Regions from separate parts of the Homo sapiens genome. Here all the other regions are linked to region 3. Evidence: fine-mapped expression QTL. A gene starts in region 3. Each other region holds a variant in brackets. All regions are shown on one strand. Distances are between the middles of the regions. Region 1 has its middle 6.7 kb from the start of IUR1. Region 2 overlaps P2RY2 (purinergic receptor P2Y2). Region 3 holds the start of P2RY2 (purinergic receptor P2Y2).

Region 1 (8,174 bases), 28 kb after region 3:
ACCGTGTGCTCCATGGAGCAGGGGCTGTGCCTGTCCCGATCACTGTCGGCTCCACTGTCCTAATCACTGCCCAGAGTCTGCTCCAAAGCCTCCTCCAGAGAGGGTGCTCCATTGATTGAACAGCTCCATGAGGAGGAGGGTGACTGACAGCACTCTGGGAACCCAGAGGAGGAAGTCACAACGCTAAAGGATAGCCAAGAAAGGGCTCCTGGCAGAGGCTGTGGGTAAAGTTTGCATAGGATGGAAAGAGGCAGGGCTGGAACAAGCAAGGGTATGGCAGTAGGAATGAGGTTGAGCTTTGCAGGAGTTCTGGGGAAGAGAGGTGGCGAGGTTAGCTGAGTGCAGGCCAGGAAGAGTTCCGGTGCTGCCTCTTGGGGTCTTGGGGTCTCTCTGCCTCTCTACATAGCTCTTAGTTTCCCCTAACCCCAGGGTTCTCACTCCCTCATCCCCCTACCTTCCAACAAATCAAGAAGTTCATGGATAAGGGACCCTGAGGGCAGCAAGGGAGGTGGTGAGAGCTCCAGTTGTCTGAGTCTAAGACCTTCCTCTGATGAAGTCCCAGCTCCAATTACCTTTCCCACCTAGCATGGCCGGAGAAAGTACAAGACGCCCAGTCAAATTTGAATTTCTGATAAACAGTGAAAAATTCTTTAACATAACGGATATTTGGGACATGTGCTTATACTAAAAAGTTATTCATTGCTAATCTGAAATTCAAATTTAACAACATATCCTGTATTGACATTTGCTAAACCTTGCAAACCCTCCCTTGACCCCCGCTTTTCAGCATCTGTCATTCACCCCTGCCCTGAGCCCCCAGGAACCATCAGAGGTTGTGGGCCTCCTGCAACATACTCAACGAAACAGAAATTCAGAGCTGCTAGGAACACTGAAGCTTATCTAGCCCCATTGCTCCCCACTATAAGTGGACTAGGAGGCCGAGGCCCAGAGGAAGCAGGCACTGGCAGGTCCTTGGGCACCTCTCAACAACTTGACTGGAACTTGGGCCTTCATGACAGCAGGAGGACCCTTGGCTGGGGGCTTCTTAGGAAAGGCCAGGGCCCTCCTATTCATCATTCTGGGGCAAGGCAAGGCAGGGAGTCTCCAGGTTTCTGCCCTGACCCTGGGCTGTGGTTTCCTGGATCTTGACACCCCCAAGTGAGTCACCTCCACCTCCCAGGCTACATCTGACTCAGTGCCAAGGCCCTGGGGCTCCTCAGCTCTTACCTGGCTCCCAGGTTGGAGGAGCCAAGTGGGCAGGTTGGGGTGGCTCTTGGGCAGGACTTTGTGGGAGGGACTAGACCTTGTGAGAGGCTCATTTCCCCACAGTCCTCCTCAGGCCCTGGTAATGGTCCAGTCAAGGGCAGCCCTCAGAAACTCCCAATGGTGCGGCTGGGTGCAGTGGCTCACACCTGTAATCCCAGCACCTTGGGAGGCAGAAGCGGGCAGATCACTTGGGGTCAGGAGTTCAAGACGAGCCTGGCCAACATGGTGAAACCCCGTCTCTACTAAAAATACAAAAGTTATCTGGGTGTGGTGACGGGAGCCTGTAATCCCAGCTACTTGGGAGGCTGAGGCAGGAGAATTGCTTGAACTCGGGAGGTGGAGGTTGCAGTGAGCCAAGTTCGCACCACTGCACTTTAGCCTGGGTGACAGAGTGAGACTCTGTCTCAAAAAAAAAAAAAAAAAAAAAAAAAATAGGAACTCCCAGTGGTGCAGCTAGAGCTGAGGAGAAGGTGGAGTGCCTGGTGGCAGGCGGGGTGGGGGTACATGGGTCGGGGGTAGGGACATAGATTTAATTAAAATCACTCAGCCCATCAGGCCTGCAGGGGTCTTCTGTCAAGTGGCCATTCCCCGCTCCCCACTGAAGGTGCCCATCCCTCTGGGCTCTGTTTCTTCCTCTCATCTTTCCATTGTTATGTTATGTATTAGTTTGCTTATTGTCAATGTCTAGTTAGAACATAAATCCTGTTCACTGTTTCAAGATCATAAAACAGTACCTGGCTCAACAAGCTTTGTGGAAATTGCCCTTACTGCATTTCACCTTGTGTGGAACATGGCCCCTGATGCCACAGTCCCCCACCCACCCATGAGCATCTCAGCATCTGCCAGGAGACTGGCTGTGTGCAGAGCTTTGTGTTCCCCCGGTCCAGGTTCCAGTTCCCTCCTCTGATTACAGCCCAGCCTGGGTCCTGGGACTGAGAAAGTAAAAGCACAGGGTTGGGGCAGACTGACAGACAGTGGGTTTAGGGTGCTGCTCAGGGTGGGGCTCTCATCTGCCTGCCCCAGTGCTTCCACCCGAACCACACAAGCCCACAGCACCTAGACGTGGCCCAGGAGCTCAATCCCAGGCCCACACGGAGCTGACCCCTCCCAGCCAGTCGGGCTGAGGGTACAGCACTGAGCCAGAAGCTGATGACCTGTCTGCCTTGACTTGTGACCTGCCAGATCCCTAGGCCTTGCCGGGCCTGGCTCTGTCTGTCTGTACAATGATGGTTCTGGGCTGACTGGTCTCTGAGGCTTGCCAGCTCAGCCCACCCATGGCTTTTTCCTACCCCTTATCTACCTCTAAACCTCTGTGCCAGCCACTCCTGCATTACCCTGGGGGTACTCCTGAGCCAAGGATCTTAGACCCTCCCCTTCACCCTAGTCAGACCCTTTGCTGACCCTTCTCTGGGACCCAAGTCCTGGTCCTATCTGTCTTGGGGACCATAGGCAGTTGGTGCCAAAGACTGTCCCCAGGATACTTGGGATACTTTAAAGTCATCCAGTAAAATGTCATTCAGGGAAAATCTGTCCACATTTACCTGGCTCCAGCCCTCTAATCAATCCTCCTTTGGGACGCCTGCTCCCCTGACATGTCCAAAGCTGATGAACTCTTTATCTTTCCCCAGACCTGCTCTTCCTGTCACAACCTCAGCAAGAGCATCACCAACCAGCCGGTCACCTGGGCCAGGAACCCAGAAGCCACCAAGCCTCCTCTCATTTTCTGCCTGCCCTCCTCCCATCCTTAACTAAATCCTGGCCACCCCTCTGTGCTATCCTGGGGACTGTCCACCTCTCACCTTCCGCTGAACTGCCCAACTTCATCCTTCATCTTTTCCTCCTGAACCTCAAAAGCAGAGGGCCCTTTGACACTGCTGTCTGCCTTCAGTCCATGCTTCATGCAGCAACCAGAGAGGGACCCTGCTGGCCACACACCCAGCCTTGTCACTCCCCTGCTCAAAACCCTTCCATGGTTCCCACTGCCCTCTGGATAAGGTCTGGCTCCTTGGCCTGGCATTCGAGGCCCTCCAGGCTCTGGACCCTGCCAGCCTTATCAGCTCATCTCATGTGGCTGTTCGACTTGCAGCCAAGTATCCTCCAGCTCTCAGCTGTGGCTCACGATGTTCCCTCCACCTAGGAGGCCTCTATTCTTCCACATCTTTAGGTTCCTCCATCCTGAATCATCTGGAGAGTCCGCTCTGGGAATTGACTCCTTATTTAGGGAGGCTGGATAAACAAGGCTTTTCTCAGGCTGCATGTGTGTTTTTAGACTCAGTCAACATTTATCTATTTATTCAGGTACTCAGCCTTTCAAAAAGGATTTGAGGTGGGCTATTCAATATTGATTGTGGGCTACCATGTGCAGCAAAGTCCAGTGTGCACACACACACTCATTCACACACAAGGCCGGGGCACCATGAGAACCAGGAACCAGGCAGAAGCTTGCAAAGGCCTCATGGGGCCAGTGTGAGGATGAGGCACCTGGATTCAGAGGGAGGCCCACCTGGCTCAGGGTAACACAGACAGATATGGGGTTGAGGGTTCAAATCTGAGGTTTTCTGAGCCCAGTTCACAGGGCTGCCCCTGGAGGACTGAAGCCCAGCCCTGTCTTTAGAAAGTTCCTTGGTTATATGTAGAGAGGGGGCTCTGGAAAATTAAACAAAGCCCACCAGACAGCTCACCTCCCCACAGGGTGCTCAGTGTCCCATCTTATTTAGCCCCCTAGGGTCAGGGAGGAAGCAGGAGCTGGAGATGAGGGGAGGATTTGGAAAGACAGAAGGTAGTAACAGAGGCAGCAAAGGCTGCAGGTGGGGGAAGGAGACCCATAGCTTCCCTCCGTGGCCCCTGCTTGCATTTCCCTTCCCTTTCGCCCACGTCAGCTTCAAGATCTGTTCCTCTTTTCTTCTGCAACATTACTGGCTGGGGGCAGGCTGGGG[C/T]GAAGACTGTGGTAGCTGCTCAACCTCTAGGTTCTCATGGGAGAGAACCTAGGCCCCAGCCGAGTGGCGGCCCTGTGGGCACTGCAGACTCCAGAGTTCCCAGCACGCTTTCCGGCCCTTTTCTCCTCCTCTGTACCCCCAGCTAGTCTGTGAGCAGGTATCACCACACCCTTTCCGAGGGGAGGAAACCAAGGACCAGAGCGTTGGTGACAGAGGAAGGACTCCATCCCTTTGTTCTCAGAAGCTAAAATCCTCCCTCTAGAAAGTATCCCAGGTGTGGCTGGGCACGGTGGCTCACACCTGTAATCCCAGCACTTTGGGAGGCTGAGGCGGGCAGATCACCTGAGGTCAGACCAGCCTGGCCAACATGGCGAAAACCCATCTCTACCAAAAATACAAAATTACAAAATTAATAAAAATACAAAATTAGCCAGTTGTGATGGTGGGTGCCTGTAATCCCAGCTACTTGGGAGGCTGAGGCAGGGAGAATTGCTTGAACCTGGAAGGCGGAGATTGCAGTGAACCGAAATTGTGCCATTGCACTCCAGCCTCGGTGACAAAGCGAGACTCATCTCAAAAAACAGAAAGTATCCCAGGTGTCATCTGCTCCTAATCTCTGACAGCCTTGCACAGTAACTGAGTTCAGAAATATGTGTTGGGTTGGCATCAGAGAGGGCCGCTGAGAAGGGGCCTCACCTGTCTGCATCCTCCAGGCATGGAGGCACCAATACTCAGTCTTGATCTCCATGGGCTGTTCTAAATCCTGGGCTCCTCTGCGGTTTCACATACAGGGCATGGGACGTGGAGGTCAGCTCAGTGGGACTCTCCAGGCAGTGGGGAGGGCGGACAGGGGACAAAGATTCTAGTTTCATCTTTTGCAGCCAAAGGTGGGGCTGGCCTGGCCCACTCCTAGGTGACCCTAACTGACCCCAACAGTGAGTGGCTGGGAACTGACCCAGGCTGAGCTGAGGCAGCTGTCAAAGCAGCCCTAAAATTAGCCCCAACAGGGATAGGGAGGGGGGATCTGGCCCAGGCTTCAGGCTCCCATGGCCCCAAGGGACTGAGCCCACACCCCACTCAAGATGGAAGAGGTCAGCCAGAGTTTTGGCAGTGACCTACCCGGAGGCTGGGAGGGGAGATTCACAAGCTAGGATGAACATGGTTCAGAAGGGGGATCGATGGGCAGGAGGCACCCCCTGCTAGTTTCTTGGATCCTATGTGGCTCCCAGCCCCAAGCCCTTCAGAGCCCTGAGAGGAACCAAGGAGAGACTTCACTATTTTTGTTCTCCTAGAACAGGATTGAGGGGGCCAGCCTGTCCTTCCAAGGCTGAACTGGATAACCTCACACCTTAGCATCAACTCCCAAGAGCAGAGGAGGAGCCAGGAGGTGTGTTAGCCTGATTGATAGAGGTGTGGATTGGAGACACCTGGGACAGGCCCAAAGTCAGCCTCATCCTGCCCAGGCATGCAGCTCCACCCACTTTCCTCTGCTCTGCCTTAGTGCTCTGAGAATCTTATTTAAAATGCAGATCCTGGCTGAGTGTGGTACCTCATGCCTATAATCCGAGCACTTTGGGATGCCAAGGAGGGAGAATCACTTGAGGCCAGGACTTTGAGATCAGTCCTGGTAACATAACAAGACCCCACCCCATCTCTACAAAAAACTTTTTAAAAAATTAGCTGGATGTGGCGTCATGTGCCTATAGTCCCAGCTACTTGGGAGGCTGAGGCAGAAGCATTGCTTGATCCTGGGAGTTCAAGGCTGCAGTGTGCTATTGAGTATGATTGTACTACTGCACTGGAGCCTGTCGCTGACAGAGCGAGACCCCATCTCTAAAAACAAAACAAAACAAAATCGGGGCGGGGCGCAGTGGCTCACACCTGTAATCCCAGCACTTTGGGAAGCCGATGTGGGTGGATCACGAGGTCAGGAGATCAAGACCATCCTGGCTAACACGGTGAAACCCCATCTCTACTAAAAAAAAAAAAAAATAGCCAGGCGTGGTGGTGGGTGCCTATTGTCCTAGGAGACAGGAGAATGGCATGAACCTGGGAGGCAGAACTTGCAGTGAGCTGAGATTGCGCCACTGCACTCACTCCAGCCTGGGCGACAGAGCAAGACTCTGTTTCAAAAAAAAAAAAAAAAAAACAAACCAAAACAGATCATGATTCAGAAGAAGATCTGGGGTCAGGTATGAGATTCTTCAAGATTCTAACAAGGTCCCAGATTGGCCCGCAGATCACACTTTGAGCACAAAACTCATTTCCCGGGCAGCTTGGGTGGACCCCAAGGCCAGGGCCCCGTCTTCTCCTATACACAGGTATCCCTACCACAGGTAACCCCAACTCCCATCTTCAGTAGAGCCTGGCATGAGCATATGGGCACCCAGTATACTAGGTGGCTGGCTGGTTTATTGTGGGTTCCTGCATGGGCAGTAGGTGTGTGTGGTAATCCCCGGGCCTCTGTGTCTACTGCATGTCTCTTGTTACATGTGTAAAAAGTGTACAAAGATGCACATATACAATAATGATGAAATAAAAATAGCTAAAGTTTAAAAAGTAGATAATCTTTATTGAGCACTATGCCCAGGGAAGGTACTAGAAATGTTACACTCAGTATCTTATTTAATTCTCATAACAACCCCTGTGAGATGAGAAAACCGAGGCTCAGAGAGGTTAAGTGACTTGCTCAAGGTCACACAGCTGATAAGCAGCAGTAAGGACTGGAATATGCATGTGCACCCGTGCACCCAGTGCGCCCATCTTGGTGCATGTGAGCTTGTGGGCATGTGTGCTGTTGAGTGGGCACAGGTGATGCAGGAGGTGAGCAGCCGCAAGGATGGGGTGGGCGGGGTAAGAGCCATGCACAATGATTCAGAGTGTGAGCTTTCCGCAGGTAGGGAGACAGGAGACCCAGGTGGAGGGAGATGCAGGCAGGAGCCAGCAAGTCTGGGCTTGAGTCTTCATACTGCAGGGCCAGCTTTGACTTCCTCCTTTGTGAAATTAGTGTGATAATATTTGCCTCACAAGGCTCTGCTGTGAGAAAGAAACGCAATAATAACGCAAAGTGTGCCACGCGGGCCTGCCTGGCACACAGCAGGCACTCAAGATGTGTGAGCTGGCCCTTCCTTCCCCTAGGGACTGAACTGCTTGGGAGTGACTTGTGCCCTGACTGGTAGCAGCCAGCTCACTGGATTAAAGGAGGCATCCTGGGGAGGGCTGGGGACAAGTGGTGAAAAGGCATGGAGCGTGGAGTGGGTTGCAGCTGAGGGAGCACCCAGGGAGGGACGGACATTTGAACAGAGCTCAGAGACTGGCCCACCACCTTTCCCTTGGCAGAGACAGGAGAAGCTGCAAGGCTGGAGATGCCCCAACTCCGGAGAAGTCCTCTCAGGAAAGCAAACACCCTGTCCCTTGACTCAGCCCTCAGCTATGCCAGACACATCAGCCCTCACGGTCCTGCAGGCCATGCCCACTGGAGACCAGATCTCCTCTGGGCCGGGCCGGACATCGTTTAGGCTGGGCCTTCGGAAGTGCCCAGTGACTCACTTACCCTTCCTCCATCCACAACCCGATCTTGCTCCTGGAGCTGGAGTCCCCTGAGGCTGCCCACACGTGGGTGGCTCCCAGAAGGTGGAGCTGTGAGGCATCATGGGGCAGACCCTTACCCCTCAGCAAGTCCGCTGCCTAAGTCCCTCCTCGTGGGTGGTGAGCTGCCTCCTGCAGGGCTCTGTAACAAGCAGGTGGTTGCCTGGGTGGGTGTCAGTCTCCCCTGGGACCCGGAGTGGAGGGGCACCCAGGTGGATCCCCCAGGCCATCCAGAAGCAGGTGCTGGGAGTGGAACCCCAGGCACACAGTTGCCGAGAACTGGCTTGCCGTGGGAGGCTGGATTGAAGTGCTGGAGGACCAGAGGACTCACAACATCCACCTCCATCATCTTCCGCGTGAGGAGTCTCAGCCCAAAAGAGGGCC
Region 2 (8,174 bases), 25 kb before region 3:
TCTCATCTTCATATTGAGTAGGCTGAGGAAAAGGTGGAAGGTGGGGATTGGTCTTGCTATCTCCGGAGTGGCAGAGGCAGAAGAAAATCTGCATATATGTGGACCCATGCAGTTCAAGCCCATGATGTTCAGGGGTAACCGTACTTGTAATATGATTACAAAGACTGCTTCAGATTTCTTTAGAGTTAGTTCTCTTTGTCCTTAGAATATGTCCTTCTTAGGAATGTACAGTGAGGCAGTTATTAATTCCAGGAAAAACAAAAAGTTATGCAAGAAAGAAAATATAAACATAGAATGCCCTAAGATGTCACTGTGAGCAACATTTTTGACATCATAAAAATGGAAGCACTGAATATTTAATCAAAAATTGCAATGGGAGAATGAGAGAAGGAAGAGAACTAAAGCCTCATTTCACAAAAGGAAACCAGTATATAATGTCTAAAATGGAAGAAACCGATTTTTAAAAATGGTCTGAGTTTGATACTGACATGAAAGTTTTCTTTTTCTCCAGTCGAATTTAAATTGCCACTCATTTCCATCACACGGAATTTACACTCACTCCTCTTCTCTGCTGCCTCCCAGCCACCCTTTTTGACTCCAGCTCAGGAAATGGAGACATCTTTTTTTTTTTTTTTACTGAAGTGGGATTGTTATTTAAATGTTCTTTGGGTAATCCTGTTCCCTGGACAACCCTGACTTGGACAGTGTCCCCTAGGGCAGACCCTCCAATTCAGGTTGGATCTCTTGCCAGGCAGATGTGTGAGTTCTCTGTGGCAGTAGCTCAGGCAGGCTGAGGGAGGGGTGGCGATTAGCGCGCTCCTTCAGCTCCTTCACCGAGGAGGGGATTTGAAGTGAATCTTGGAGGAGGAGACACATTTCAGGTGAGCAAGGAAGTCAGAAGGATTCTGTAGACGCAGGGACAGCATAGGAAAGGCAAGGTGCCTGGAAGGGATTCTGCAATACATCCAGTATTCCACAATACACGTGTTACTCCTCAGGGACACTGTTCAGTCACTCTGGTTTTTCTGGCCGCCCAAGATGTAGGGCCATTTCCTAATCTATTTAATAATAGGCATATCATTTGGCGTCTGCTCAGCTCAGCCCACGGCCTTGGAACAAATGGACCCAATTAAAAGGCCATCATAGGGGAATTCAAGGGAAGAGGAAAAAGCCATTGATCAAATCAATGCTCAGTTGCCCTGGGGCTGGTTTGTGACCAGCTATGCCAGAGTCCTTCCCCCTATCCTCTCCCAGATGCTGTCCTAGACCTGAGGACCTTCCCGCCACCCTGGTCCCATCCTCCTCTCCTCCACCCCCACCCACTGACTAGCTGTGTGGCCTCACACTACATCTTCTCTAGATCTCAGGGTCACTGTCTACAAAACATTGTAGGCATCCTCTGCACCCCCTCTTCTTTTATCACCTCCTTCCATCCAATCCATAAAGGATCCCATTCACTCTTCCTTCAGAATACATCTGGCATTGGTCCACTTCTCCCCACCTCCATTGCTACCACCTGGTCCCAGTCCTCAGCCTGAGCTCTCACCTGGATTTCTGCAACAGCTCCTCCCTGTAGTCATTACTTCTGACCTTGCCCCACTGTGGTCTATTCTCAGCACAGCAGACAGACCAATCCTTCTAAAATGTAAGTCAGATTCTGTCTCCTCCTCAGACCTTGCATGGCTTCCCTTCTCATTCAATGTCCTACCAGATCTCCCCCGACCTCTGGCCTCCCCTCCTCCCCTCCAGGCCCACTCCACCCCAGCTGCAGGCCCTAGGGCTTTGCACTTACTGGTCCCTCTTTCTGGGAGCTCTTTTCCATTTGGCTAACTCCCACACCTCCTTCAAGTATTTGCCCAAATGCCTCCTTTTCACCCAACCACCCTATTTAAAATTGCAACCTTCATGTCCTCACAATCCCTCTTCCTGTTGTTTTTTGCCTCCTACAGAGCTTGTCACCTTTTAACACACCATATAATTTACATTCTATTATGTTCACTGCTTATTATCTCTCTCCCCCTACTAGAATGTGAGCTCAAGGGCATCGTCTTTGTCTTTTTTTTTTTTTTTTTTTTTTTTTAAAGAGACAGAGTCTCGCTGTGTCTCCCAGGCTGGAGTGCAGTGGCATGATCTCGGCTCAGTGCAACCTCTGCCTCCTGAGTTTGAGCAATTCTTCTGCCTTAGCCTCCCGAGTGGCTGGGACTACAGGCGCCTGCCACCACACCCAGCTAATTTCTTTTGTATTTTAGTATAGACGAGGTTTCACCATGTTGCCCAGGCTGGTCTCAAACTCCTGAGCTCAGGCAATCTGCCTGCCTCGGCCTCCCAAAGTGCTAGAATTACAGGCGTGAGCCACCACACCTGGCTGTCTTTGTTTTTTTAATTCACTGATGATTTACGGACATTACACAGAGCAGTACCTGGCACATAGTAGGTACTTACTAAATATTTGTTGAATAAATGAATGAATGAGTGGGTGATAATAAGGTTCCTGCCTCAAAGGGCCATTGTGAAACTTGTAAAATAATTAATTTATTTCCTTTGCAAAGGAAAGGAATGTGCCGGGCACTGATGGGCACGGAGGATAAAGCAGTGACCAAAACAGATCCCTGCCTTTTGGGAACTTTCATTCTAGCAAGGAGAAACAGCATAAATAAACTATGATGTGAGTATGGTTACCATCCCCCCCCACTTTTTTTTTTTTAATTTGAGATGGAGTCTCGCTCTGTTGCCCAGGCTGCAGTACAGTGGCACAATCTCGGCTCACTGCAACCTCCGCCTCCTGCCTCCCGGGTTCAAGGAATTCTCCTGCCTCAGCCTCCCAGGTAGCTGGGATTACAGGCACGTGCCACCATTCCCAGCTAATTTTTGTATTTTAGTAGAGATGGGGTTTCACCATGTTGGCCAGGCTGGTCTCAAACTCCTGAGCTCAAGTGATCCACCCGCCTCGATCTCCCAAAGTGCTGGGATTACAGGTGTGAGCTGCCATGCCCGGCCAGTTACCCCCTTTGTTTATGATGAGAAAACAGGTACCCAAGGTCGCCTGATTGATGAGTGGCAGAGCTGGGATTCAAACGCAAGTCCCTCTGACTCCAGGATTTGTGTGCTTTCTGTGCTGTGAATGAGGGCATCTGGGTTTATGTGGAGTAAAAGCTTGTGGGTGAGAGGTGTGCAGAGATCTGAGAGGACGGCTTAGGAGGCTGGCTGAGGCTTCCCATCTTACCTCTGCTTCTGGATCCACACAAGGACCCCGAACTCAGGCCTCCCTTTCCACATGACTTCCACAGGAGTCAGACACATCTTACCTACGGACATGCTGGTGGGATCCAAATTACAGGCATCTCAGGTGTGGTGGATGAACCCCAACTTCTTCCCAGATGGAGTTCCTGGGAGAACCGGCTGTGCTAGTCACACTTCTCCGGGGCATGGAGTGCAGTTTTGAAGGCTGTCCTGTGAGAAGACAAGGACTTCTAGGGGCGTGCGGAGGGCAGGGGTCTCTGGTGAGGATGGGGTTACCGGAGTGGGGTAGAAGAGAGAGTTAGGGGTGCCCATTCTTTGGAAAGAGCATGGTTACACCCTTCCATGTCCTTCCACGGCTGCCCTAGGCAGATGTGCTGTGTCCCTGAGTCTGAGCTGGGGAGGCGCAGGACCCTGTGAAGAGTGGTCTTCCACAGGAAAAGGGATTGCTCAGCAGGGAATGATCTCTACCCCTGGCTGGGGTGCAGGAGACGGACATCATGGTTTGGGCCAGGCACCGTCACCTTGTTGGCAAGTCAGGGCATGTTGGCAAGTCACTGTATGCAAATTGTGTTCTCTGTTTCAATTGTCAGCTCTCCCCC[C/T]GGACCCTCACACTCAACAGCCTGGCTGCAGCCGGATCATTTTCTTATCACCCCATAGGCGAAGGTCTGGATCCCAGCCCCCGTTTCCTGCCACTGCTGCCAGCTTTGGCCACCAGGGGGAAGCAGAGCAGCACCAACCAACCTGGGGCCCTTCGTAGACTAAACAGCCAGGGCAGAGCACAGAGTGGACTGTCCCTGTCCGCCTCCCTTTGCTCCCAAGGATTCTGGGGACAGGGAGCAAAAGGGGAGGGTGATGGGGAGTGGGGAGGGAAAGGGAGTTAGAGTGGGAGGGAGGGAAGGAGAGGGGGTGCCACAGAGCTGGCAGCTGGACCCTCTCTCCATTCCCATCTCTTCCTGCCATTCCACTTCCACTTCCGGGGTTTAGTCTGACTCCTGGCAGCCCCTTGTTGCCCCCCTCTGGCCTGGCTGCCCACCTGCAGCCCTTCTGTCTCTGAGTGTCCACTTGGTACCTGCCAGGACTGCCCCTCGCCCCTCACCATCCTCCCTGGAACATGTGATCATTCAACACACACATAAACACACGTGCACACACACAGAGACAGCACACACTGTGTGGACTAAGGTGGCAGGCTTTTAATTTCCTCCCCCACGTTTTACAATTGCTTTGGTCACAAAGGCAGGTCTAACAGTTTAATTCCACGCCAGAGAGGAGGGGACTTTTCATGTGGCTGCTGATTTGGAATTTGGTTCCAGGACATAAATCTGAGGACACATGGGGTAAAATAGCCCGCTTTCTAAAGAAACCTGGAAACAACTGGGGTAAGACATCTTCTCAGGGTTCCTTGCCCCAGCTCTCTACACACCCCACCTCACTCTACACGCTGAACCCTGGGCACCATGGATTCAAAGACATCTTTGCCACTGTGAGATCTCAGCCAAGTGTGGGGTGTGGGGTGGGAGGGGGACAGGCTTCCACATCCCCAGCAGGGTGTGCAGGAAAATCACTCAGGGAGACCAGGGTATCAGTCAGAGTCCCAGCAGGAAAGACGTTGCACACTCTAATCAGGTCATTTTGGGATAGCTTAGCGGAGAGACTGTTTTTACAAAGGTGTGGACTGATGTTTGGAGAGTTCTGTGCAGGGGGCACTGATGGCCCAGGAAGCAAGGTCAGCAAGAGAGGGCTGTAGCATCACCAGGAAAGACACATTGGTCCCTTTCCTCCCCACCCTGCCCCAACACCTAGAGGAGAGAGGGACCCAGAAGAGGAGTGATGAAGGTCCTCACAGCATGGGGGAAGAGGACAGGTGAGCATTCAATTAAGCAGGCGATGGAAATCTTAAACCTGACTTTGTTACCCAAAAGTGACTCAAAAGTTTGGAGTTTGCCAAATGCGCAGTTTATGGATGGGAAAGGAAAATCACACGTCACTGAGCAGGGAGCATGGGTGGGAGGAAAATCAAACAGTTGCATGTTTGTGCCTCACTGCATTGTCTCTGTCTAGTAAACCGGGAAAAGAGGTATTGGTATTACCAGTTCAATTTTCCAGATGAAGAAACTGAATTTGCAGTCCCAGAATTGGTGATGGCTGAACTGTGCCAGAGCCCTGCTCCTGCATCAGCTGCCCTGTGGCCCCCACCCTCCCCTTTGCCCCAGAGCTGCTGCTCTGTCACCCTGAGTTCAGTCACAGTCAGCGTGGGCTGCTATAACAAAATGCCACCGACTGGGTGGATTAGAAACAAGAGACATTTATTTCTCACCATTCTGAAGACTGGAAGTCTAAGATCGGGGTGCCAGCATGGTTGGGATCTGGTGAGGGACCTCTTCCAGGTTGCAGACTGCCAACTTCTCATTATATCCTCACATGGTGGAAAGAGGGTGAGGAGCTCTCTGGGGTCCATTCTGTAAGGGCACTAAACCCATTCATGAGGGCTGCACCCTTAGGACCTGGTTACTTCCCAAAGGCCCCACCTTCTAATACCATCACCTTGGCAGTTGGGATTTTGACATATGGATTTGTGGGGCGGGGGACACAAACATTCAGTTCCTAACAGCCACATTTGGTAAAAATGGGACTCAGTGGGGAGAAAGGGTTTAAGGTCAGGCCCCTGCACTGGGCTCACTCCAAGGTCAGAGCATGAGCTGCACCTCTCCACCCACACCACTTGGGCTGCTATCCCAGGTGCCCATCCCAGGAAGCTCAGTGGTGAGCTCTCACCACTGTAGCTCCAGTCCAGGAGCCACAGACTGGAGCTAATGAAGTTGGCTGAGGCAGTGGGAGCAGCCAAAGAGCCCTGGGCTTACACCTAAGCTTCACACTGACTGCTGTGTGACTGGGTAAGGCACAGCCCTCTCTGGGCCACCAGTCCCACTAAGCAGCCAAACAATCCCTGGGGTCCCTGCCAGGAGGGAAAACTCATTCCAACTGGTTGTGTCTCCCAGGAGTCTCACGTGATGTTTCACAATGGCCTTCAGGAGTTAAGAGCCCCAGGAAATGACATCAGGGTGGGGAGGTAAGGAGCAGGGCCAGGAGGTGAGGAGCAGGGCAAAGAGGCTTGGAAACTAGGGGCAGGAGATATTTTGGGGCAGGCAGGTCCCCCGCGTCACTGCTGGACAATGGTCCAGGGCAGTCATTGTACTGGGAGTGGAAAATCCTCTTCTGACTCCATCTGCAAGGGCTGAAAATAGTCCAGGGCCGTGGGTGGAGCCCCCAGGGACAGGGGGTGACTGGCCCTGCCTGGCCCATTGTTCCTGGCTGGGACAGGGCTGAGACTGACACCTGAGCTGGAGCCAAGACAGAGGCAAGCCCAGGAATTCCCCCATTGGAGGAGGAGTGGCCAGGCAGAGCCAAGTCCTATCGAAGATGGGGAAAGCGAGGCCCAGAGAGGGACAGTGACTCCCCCAAGTTGCACAGTGCATCAGGGCAGAGGAGGATGAGTTCGACTCGGGCTCAGTTCTCACCCCAACCCTTCACCCCCACAAGCACACCCCTCACTCTGTAGTCTGGTCACTCCTGGCCAAGCCCCACCCTCCACCTTGCAGGAGGCAGGAGCTCCAGACATCGCACTGTGTGGCTCTGTGTGGCGGCAGTGGGGTCACTTCACTTCTCTGGTCACTTGATGCTGGGGAGAAACACTGCCTCCACCCTAGTCCTCAGAGCTGGGGGCCTGGAGGGTCTTGGAAATGCCCGGGGAGCAGCTGTTGGTTGTGCCTTCACTGAGGTGGGGAAATTGGAACAGGGGAACAGGTCTCCAGGCCCTACAGTGCAGTCCAGAGAAGGCAGGCAAGTGACCTCAGGTCACACAGCAAAAACTCCCCATTTGCTGCCTGCCCTTGCCCAGCTCCAGACCAGTCCTCTGCTCCTAGATCTGTGGACTCTTAATGAAGTGAGAGGTGGCTGCAGAGCACCATGGTGGACACCCCAGTCAGGGAGAAATGGCTACCCTGCTGCCGTGGGAGGGTGCGAGCTCTCTAGCCTGAAGTGGCAAGTTTCTGAAGCTTGCTACTAGGGGCCCCCTCTTCCTCCTCTCCATGCTGCCCTCCCACAGCTGGGCACCTGGACAAGGTTCTGTAAACAGCACAGGCCCATGGTCCTGAAATCCACCTACTGCCAAGCAGGGCAGAGGTGGTCCCACACATTCCCCCAGGACAGACCTGCTTCCCTCCTCCCACACCCCACGGGGGTTCCCTGGAGACGTATGGCCCACTGTTGCTCACTGGCCAGACACACTGTCCTCTCCTTCAAAACATGTATCCCAATGTGGTTACGTACTAAGTGATGTCAACTCTGTGAGGGCAGGGCCCAGCTGATTTGCCTCCATAGCCCCCGGCCTGGTGCCAGGCATATAAATGCTGACCACACACCAGGCACTGTGAGGAGGACTTTGTGCGTAATAACGTAGGGAAGCCCCTCAACGCCCTGCATGGAAGGTAGCAGCACACTTTAGAAATGGGAAAACTGAGGTGCTGCAAGATTAGGTAACTTGCCCAAGAGACCCCAGCCAGGAAAGTGGGGACAATATTGACACTGAGGTGGTCTGGGTGGAGCATCTGTGTTCTCACATCCTTGCTACACTGCCTCTGTCATCTTGAATCATGCGAGGGGCCACTTATAGACCCTTCTGCCCTGCAGGGCTGTGAGTGTCGTGGGGCACTATAAAGGGCATGATTCTGGCCATCAGGTGAACCTGGACTCACTCTGACTCACCCTGACAGCCTGGATAACCTGGAACAAGTCCTCACTTCTCACGCCCTTCTCCTGTTTCCTCATCTGCTAAATAGGATCATAGCATCTACTTCCCAGGGCTTCTGTGAAGCATCCACCATATAACATAGATGAGAGGGTGCGTGGGACATGGGTCAATACACGACTTCCCT
Region 3 (8,174 bases):
AGCCAGCCTCCTCCTATCAGGGCCCAGTAATAAGGGAAGGCCAGGCCTCAGGACCCAAGGACAACCAAGAGGAGGTGTGGCCCAGAGGGTATAGCAAGCAGGCCTACAGAAAGCAGTTTGGGGAGAGGCGGTTTGGGTGGAAGGCATGAGGGGCAACCCCCACTCCCCTCACCAGATCAACAAGGCATCTCTGGTCCCGTGGGCAGGTCTGGGCAGGCGTTACCTTATCAGCAGTTGGGTAATCTGGCCACAAGAAAGCCCCAAACACAGGTTCCCAGGGCAGAATTCAAACTCCCCTCAGCCTGGAAGCCAGAGGACCAGGCCTAACCCTAACAGGGCTCTGTCTCAGATGGGGAGGGCTAAGCTGGCAGGTGGACTGGAGCCCCAGGTTTCACCTCAGCTTGGTGACCCTGGGCAGGATACAATCCATGCCTCTATTTCCTGATCTGCAAAATGGAGATACAATTCCTCCCTCACAGGGCTATAGGAAGACAAAATGGATTGTTGTAAATCGTTACTAGTGAAGCCATCTCTGCAGAGGGGGTGGGGGAGGAAGGCATTCAGTAATCAAATTTCAATAACAAGCACAATCCCTTGCTATTGCACCCATGTTCTCTTATAGTCTTCAAAATGGATTTAAGTCTACAAGTGTCACATTCCTCCTCTGAGCACTGCAGTTTAAGGCTTATAAAGCTCTTCCCTGGTCACTATCTTAATCCTCGTAGCAACTCTGCTCTCAAAGAAGCAAGGATCACCATTCTCAATTTACAAATGGCAGAACTGACACCTAGAGAGGGACAATGGCCTCTCTAAAGACTATAGCCATTAAGTCAAAGCTCTCATGGGGTCACTCATGAGGCCCTGGTGATACCCTCACACCTTCTTAGCTGGTCCTTGGGGGATCCACAGCCTTAGAGCCCCATGCATCCAGGGCAGGAGGGAGACAGAAACAGAGGAGTCACAGCCTCACTCCACAGCCCAAGCTTGGTAGTCATTTCTGAGGGTTGCCCACTGGGATCCCCAACCCCTCTGACCAGACTCCAAGACAGCCCAAGGCAGGGAGAAGAGGAGAAAGAGCGACAAGCCTTTTGTGCCAGAGCCTCCCCACACACATACTCTCCCATGCAGGATCTTACTTGTTCTGGCCTCCTTTTAGAGCCTGGCAGGGCAGGAACTGGTCATTCAACCAGCTGGGAACAGAGCTGGGATGAGATCAATTGCAGGTCCCCAAATTCCTCAGCAGGAGCATCTGAAGGCTCAGGGAAAAGTGTTTGGCCAAGGGGCAAGGGCTCAATTAGGGTTCAAACAACTCCTGGGACAGTTCTAGTGTTGACATCACAAATGCCCTGACCTCCCTGCACTTGGCAATACTTGATCCATTCTCCATCCTGCAGCCAGAGAGCGCTTTCTGAAATGCCGCTCTGACCATGAAACACCTCTGCTCATAAATTTCCATGGCTCCCTATTGCCTTCAGGATAAAATCTCTAGGTCTTTAGCCTGGGCACTCTAGGTCCTACAGTGTCCCAGATCACACTGTTCTGGCAAACTGTGCCACCCACTTTGATAACCAGATTCTGGTTTGCCCTTCTTTGTAGTGACATGGAGCTCCCCTGCAGCCGGGCCTTTACTGGAGAAGCTGGTGCCAGAGACAGGGGATGGGCGCCACTGCTGCTCTCTCAGTTCAGCTCAGCCCTGTGCAGGGTGCTGGCAACACAGAAATAATAAGACCCAGTTTCTGCCCTCCAGGAGCCCCTAGACCTGGGAAGAGGAAAGGAGGAGACAGACATAGATCATGACGGTTCAGGTGGGACCAGGGCTGTCAGCCCCAGGCCTGTAGGGGCCTAGAAGAGGCTCCAACCCAGCTGTAGGGATCAAGGAAGGCTTTCCAGAGGAGAGGACATCTGAGCTGGGTCCCAAGTCTGGGTAGTTCTCCAGTTGAGGAAGGTGAGAGTAGGAGGGCTTATCAGAGAGGGAGTGTAGAATATGCAACAGGCCAGGGGCAAGAAATGAGAGACTCCAGGCAGCTGCTGCAAGGTAAAGAGTCAGGCGGGAGAGGTGGCTGGAAAGGCTGGCAGGCCCCAGTTATCAAATACCTTAAGTCCCAGGCTACAGGGTTCAGGCTTGGTCCTGTGGAAGGCTTGTGCCCTAGGGAGGGGCACAGTTGGGATTCTGGTTCTGGGAGGCTCCTTCCAGGGACTGACTTCCCATCCCCAAGCTGTGAGCCTGCCCATGGGGGGACACTGGTGCTGAACATGACACACTCATCAGCTCCTCAACAGCCCTCAAATTCCTTATCATTAGTCCCTTCTTACAGACGAGGCCACTGAGGCTCAGAGAAAGGACGGCTTGCCCAGGCCACACAGTGGCCAAGACAGGATTGGAACATAGATCTCTGAGTCTCCAGAGCTCTCTTGTGGACCTGTCTGCTCAGAGAATCTTCTTCCTTCCACTTCCACCCACAGGTAATAAACTTGCCTGGGTCTCCACCCAGATCCTCAAAACTCATAATTATTTCAGCTTAGATCCAAAACAAACCAGGCAGATCAGGCTGTGGTCCTGGGAAGCTGGGGATGCCATGCTGAGAGGAACAGCAGCCATGGACCCCACAAATCCCGAGCTGGCAATTCTGGTCTCCAGCAGTCCCCAACCCTTGGGCTGCGCTCCTGGAGGACCCCAAGAGGGCCACTGGCAGCCTTCGGGTTGGGGGGTGGGGTATCGCCTTTCTCCTGACTGACCCTTTCTACCGCACCATTTGCCAGATTAAAAGCCCGGGGACAGAGGCTTAACTGTCCTTTCTGGCCACTCCCTCCTCCCCCGCCCACTCCCTGCAACTGCCCCCTCAACATTACCAATGGTAGGTGGCCACCCAGAGTGACCCTGGGGTTAGGACAGTGGTAGGGGGTCTCCAGGGGTTCGCGTCTCTGGGCACCGGCCACCGCCTCACGCCACGGGGACGCTCACATCGGAGCACACACAGACAAGTTCCGCAGGCTTGGCCAGTCGCCCCGAGGGGCGCACACACTCACCCGCTAACACGCAGACCTCCCCAGTACGCTGACGCGCACAGCCTCACTACTGGGGCGCCCGTCCACACTCACCGAGACCGACGCTCCCGTGGAGACAAAGTTCAACCACGGACCCACAGGCGCGTTCAAGCCGTCCAGTTATGCGCTACACGCCGGCTCGCAACTGTGCCCCGGGGCGACAGCCGCTCCACAGCGCCCTCCCCTGCCCCGCGCCCAGTCCGCACCTGCGCCAGTCTGGCCCGCCGCTTCCCCGGGCCTCTCCCAGCGCCTTGTTCCCTCCAGACGCCCCACCCCACCTCTCGCCACTGCGCTGCGCTTCTCCTCTCAGGGTGCCGTCGCCGCCGCTCCCGGGTGCCAGTGCCCGGGTCCCGCCGCAGCCGCAGAGACCCACGTGCCTGGGAGCCCGGCTACCCACCTCCCTGCGCTGTTCCCCAACCCCGAAGCCGGGCCAGGCAGGGGGCGGGGCGGACTTTTGACTGACCCTGGCACCGCCCTCAACCCGCCCGGGTAGACACCGCGCCACCCGCTCCGGGACGCCGCCCAGCGACAAGGCCGCGGGGTCAGCGTGTCTGTACCGGTGCTGCAACGGGAGGGTCGGGCGGCGACGCTCTCACTGCCGGGCCAGAAGGAGGCCTCCCGGCTCCCTCACGCTAGAAGGGAGCTGGTTACCAGAGGTTTTCAGAGACGCCAAAGTTTTGCCAGGTCAGCCCGGTGCCTGCGTGGCCCACTGCGGGACCTTTGCGCCCAGCCACCGCGCCACCCTACCCCTGTCCCGCCCCTGCCCCAGCCCGGCTGGCCAGGAAGGGACCTACTGGGAGATACCTGCTCGGAACCCCAGGCTAAGGACGTACCTCCCTTGCTTGAAAGTGGGGGAAGGGGGTGCCTCTCTCCATTACCGTGGTTAGGAAAGCAGGGTACTCAGGATCCCGCCTCTCCCGTGCTCCCCACTTTCCCTGCCTTAATCTTATCAGCAGCTCCCTGAACTCCCCACTCTGGCCCCTTATCTTGAGCTGCTTTACCTCTCTTCTCTGTCGTCAACCCCACTCTAATGGCCTTCCCTGGTCGGGCTACCGGCTGCATGTCTGACCCGTTCGGAGACTGTGAGCTCCCGAGGGCAGGAACCAGGTCTGCCTTCTTCCTGCTGCTGTCCTAGAGGTCCTGGGAGGTGCTCAATCCTTGAAGGTGTGAATGGATGAATGAATGAGCACCCCGCCTCTCTCTCATTTCTGGTCTAGGAATCAGGAGTGTAGGTTCCTGTCTGGCTTCAGCACTGACTCTGGGAGACCTTGACCCAGTTCCATTCCCTGGCAGGGTCTTCTTTCCTGTGAAATGGAGCCAATCGCTCCGCTGGCTGGACAAGTGCAGAGGAGGCCTCTTCCTGTAGCCAAGGAACTTGCCCCGGGCCTTCGGGGCCTTGGGCCCTCTTGGGCTCCATATCAGCTGACTGGGCCTGGCTGCCAGGAAGGGTGCTGGCTGCAGCCCCACCAGGAGCAGTAGCAGAGTGGACACACAGCCCATAGTGGCTGAGCCGCCTCTGCAGTCCTGCTGGGGCCTTTGCTTGGGAGACACAAAGGCCCCTTGTCTAGCCTCCTGCGCCTATTGTCTAAGCTGGGCCACGCACCTTCCAGGGACCTAAGTATCCTCATAGCCCGAGTTATAGGGCCTAGGCCTTCAGGTTCCAGTGTGGGGAAGACCCTTTGGGCACTGGAACTCCAGCCAACCCTCTCTTTCTCTCCCCTCTTCCAAAACTTCAAACCTTATACTGTCACTGCCATTTAGCCCAGGAGAAACAAGTTTCTTTGACGCCAAGTTGAGGACCCAGGCTCGACCTTAGCCTTCAGCGGGCAAATCTGGTTGGTGGCCTGCCCAGGGCTCTGCCCCTGCTCTGGCCCAATTCCCTTACTTTACAGCTGAGGAAACTGCATTCCTGAGACATACAGCGTTTCAGCTACCACACAGGTGACTTAGTGAGGCTTGAGGAGCAGAGGAAGGGGCCTAGTCCTTGAACCCCATAGCCTTGGGTTTAGATTCCAGTCTTACCTCACCTGTCCTATGACTCCTCTCTGAGCCTGAGTTTCCTCTTTTGCAAAAGGGAGTAATACTAATCTCTCACTTGCTGGCCTGTCTTAAATTTTTTGAGAAAGGGCCTCACTCTGTCACCCAGGCCGTAGTGCAGTGGCATGATCACAGCACACTACAGTCTCTATGTCCCAGGGCCAAGGGATCCTCCCATCTCAGCCTCCCAAGTAGCTGGGAATACAGGCACATGCCACCATGCCGGGCTAATTTGTAAATTTTTTGTAGAGATGGGATCTCCCTGTGTTGACCAGGCTGGTCTCAAACTGCTGAGTCCAAGCAGTCCTCCTGCCTCGGCCTCCCAAAGTGCTGGGATTCCAGGCATGAGCCCCTGCACCCTATCCTTAAATTCTTTTTTCATGGTTTTATTCATCATCCCAAGCTGTCTGGGCTCAAGGCGTTAGTATCCCATGCAATGAGGGCCTAGAAGTTTCGTCTCCTGACATCCTCCCCAGGCAGTCCCATCGCTGGGTTTCAGAGGCCATCAAGCCCAGCAGGCTTCAAATCCCCCAACAGAGTCCCCCTTACCTGGGGCTGCCTGGGGAACTCCCATCCCACTTCAACTTGAGCACCTTTGCCTTTGTATTTTTATTTATTTACATTTCCTGGTAAGAATTTGTTGCAAGCACATGAAAGATTTTGTGGCTGAAGTAATGTAAAACCATTGATCAAACCGGAAATTGAGACACAGCCAGCGTCACACAACAGGCCATCTGAAAGGCTGGAATAGCATCGAGGGAGTCTCCCTGGAACCAAGCAGCCAAGGCAGGCTAATGGTGAAGGCCCAGGCACAGTAATGGTCCCCTGGAGGTGGGTAATGGAACCATGGGGGCGGGAGGAGGGTTCCATTAGCAGTAGCAGATCAGGAGGGGAAGGGCAAAGTTCCAGCCTCAGCTTCTCCCATGTATTAGGAGGCTTCCTGTCTCTCCAGCCCTGAGGAGGTATTTGGCTCATTCAGGCCTTTTCATCCTCCTTCTCTCAACTTCTCTCATTGCCCCTGGGAAAACTTGCTCTGAAAATGCATGCTGGGGATGAAGCCTCTGCCCTGGCCCAGGCTCCAATCCCCCCTTCCCAGGGTACAGTGGTGTCTCTGTTGCCCCTTGATGCCATACCCTGCCTTACACTCTCTGGTGGCTCCACCATCCTCTGGATAAAGCCTAGCTCTCTAGCCTGCCACTCCAGCCTCCCTGCCTCTCTGCCTCACCTCTCACCTCTGACCAGCCTCCTGTTGCCTCTTGCTGCTCCCTCTGCCCACAGTGCCCCCTGCTTCTGGCTCCCCACCATGGGTCCTCGAAGACCCAGGCCAGGTGCCCCACCACTTACCATGCTGTTATTGCTATCACTGCCTGTCTCCCCCTCTAACAGGGATCTCTCTGAGAGCAGAGCCAGGTTCCATTCTGTTCACAATTAAATGGCCAACACCTAGCACTGTCCCTGAATAATTTTTCTTTTTTTTTCTTTGAGATGGAGTCCTGCTCTGTCATCCATGCTGGAGTGCAGTGGCGTGATCTCAGCTCACTGCAACCTCCGCCTCCTGGGTTCAAGTGATTCTCCTGCCTCAGCCTCCCAAGTAGCTGGGATTACAAGTGTGCACCATCACACCCTGCTGATTTTTGTATTTTTAGTAGAGACAGGGTTTCACCATGTTGGCCAGGCTGTTCTTGAACTCCTGGCCTAAAGCGATCCACCCGCCTTGGCCTCCCAAAGTCCTGGGATTACAGGCGTGAGCCACCGTACCTGACCCCTGTCCCTGAACATTTGTCACAATATATTATGAGTGAATGAGTAAGAACTCTATTTTAGTGGTCACCTTCTTTGTGCTAGTCATTAAGTTTAAGGTATCTCGCTTAATATTCTCCAGAACCCTGTGAGATAGGCATTATTTTATTCTCATGTGACATGTAGAGAAACAGGTTCAGAAAGGGGAAGCGAAAGTCCAAAGCAGTGAATCTGCGGTGGGTCTCCTGGCCCCAGAATTGCAGCCTGATGGGAAGGAAGGCCCTGCTGAGTTCCCAGAGTTATGGCTGGGTCATGGCATTGGGACCCACACTGGCAGCTCCAGTTACACAGGGCTGGGCTGGCTCTAGCAGCCTTGTCTTACTTGCTCCCTGAACTGCTGCATTGACCTGCACCATCCTCCCTTCCCTTGCCAGCCGAGAACTGTGCTCCTCAGGTTTCCTGGGCAGGGTCCAGGGCTCTGATGCCAAACGCAGCCTGGAAACTCTAGCTCTCAGCATGCCAGGATGCGGGCACCCAAGTGAGGCCGCCTGGGATGCAGGAAGCTTAGTCCAGGCCTGGGCATGCCTCTGTTCCATCTCCCCTCAAGCAGGACCAGCTACTTAATCTGCGGGACCCAGAGCAGAATGAAAATGTGGGCCCCTCATTCAAAAATTTAAAATTTCCAACAAAAGAATGAAAAAATAAGAAAAAATTAAGAATTTCAAGATGGTGATAGCAGAGTATTTAACACTTCAAATCATGACCCTTACTGTCCAGGTCACATGCCCACAAAGTCAGCCCTGTCGTCAGGCCTTGGTTTCCTTGTCTGTCAAGTGGGAGAATGGTAGCCACTGGCCAAAAGGGTGAGGGTGAGAATGAGGTGGGAGCTGGTGGTAAGAGGTCCAGTGAACAGCATGAGGATGAGGTAAGAGTCTCCAAGTTCATGATTTGTTATCTGGGTCTCAGCACCGGGTGGCAGGCCAAACTCCTTGCCAGGAGTTTGATTGCTTACAACAGCTCTTTTTCACAGAACCAAAAAACTAAAAATCCATGAAGCAAAGTAACTTGCTCAGGGTCACACAGAGACTCAGTGGGGGAAGCCAAGATCAGAGTTCTGGCCTGGCTCTCTTCGAAGCTGGTGCTTTTTGTGACCCAGGCAGGAGAGAGAGAAGCGCAGGAGGGAGGTGGGATGGGGACAGGCTGCTCAGGACAAAGAGGGCCACTGTGCAGACACAAAGACCTGACCACAGAGGCCCCTCTGGGGGCTGGGACAGACAAATGGATGGAGCCCTGTGACTCTATCTGTGGTGACTGGGGTAGCTGCCAGGAGCTGCCTCCTAGACCCTACCTGG

Evidence for each region.
Region 1: its variant is fine-mapped to the expression of P2RY2 in whole blood (TOPMed, PIP above 0.99). The same link has a PIP of 0.9 or more in T cells and monocytes.
Region 2: its variant is fine-mapped to the expression of P2RY2 in whole blood (INTERVAL, PIP above 0.99). The same link has a PIP of 0.9 or more in monocytes after LPS.

What each region holds. Positions count from the first base shown.
Region 1 is chr11:73,185,505-73,193,678 of GRCh38, reverse strand. No RefSeq gene overlaps it. Among named protein-coding and RNA genes, the nearest start is that of IUR1, 6.7 kb to the right of the region's middle. The variant C/T (reference allele first, on the strand shown) is at 4,203.
Region 2 is chr11:73,238,575-73,246,748 of GRCh38, reverse strand. It overlaps P2RY2 (purinergic receptor P2Y2), which reads right to left. Exons shown (of 3, transcript NM_002564.4): 3 at 4,322-8,174. Among named protein-coding and RNA genes, the nearest start is that of P2RY2, 24 kb to the right of the region's middle. RefSeq lists enhancers at 3,647-3,886, 3,532-4,278, 5,677-6,427. The variant C/T (reference allele first, on the strand shown) is at 3,840.
Region 3 is chr11:73,213,582-73,221,755 of GRCh38, reverse strand. P2RY2 (purinergic receptor P2Y2) reads right to left here and starts at 3,475. Exons shown (of 3, transcript NM_002564.4): 1 at 3,324-3,475. LOC124902709 (a long non-coding RNA gene) reads left to right here and starts at 3,563. Exons shown (of 3, transcript XR_007062773.1): 1 at 3,563-3,729; 2 at 5,717-5,913; 3 at 6,568-6,900. RefSeq lists enhancers at 2,204-2,922, 2,923-3,641 and a silencer at 3,355-3,564.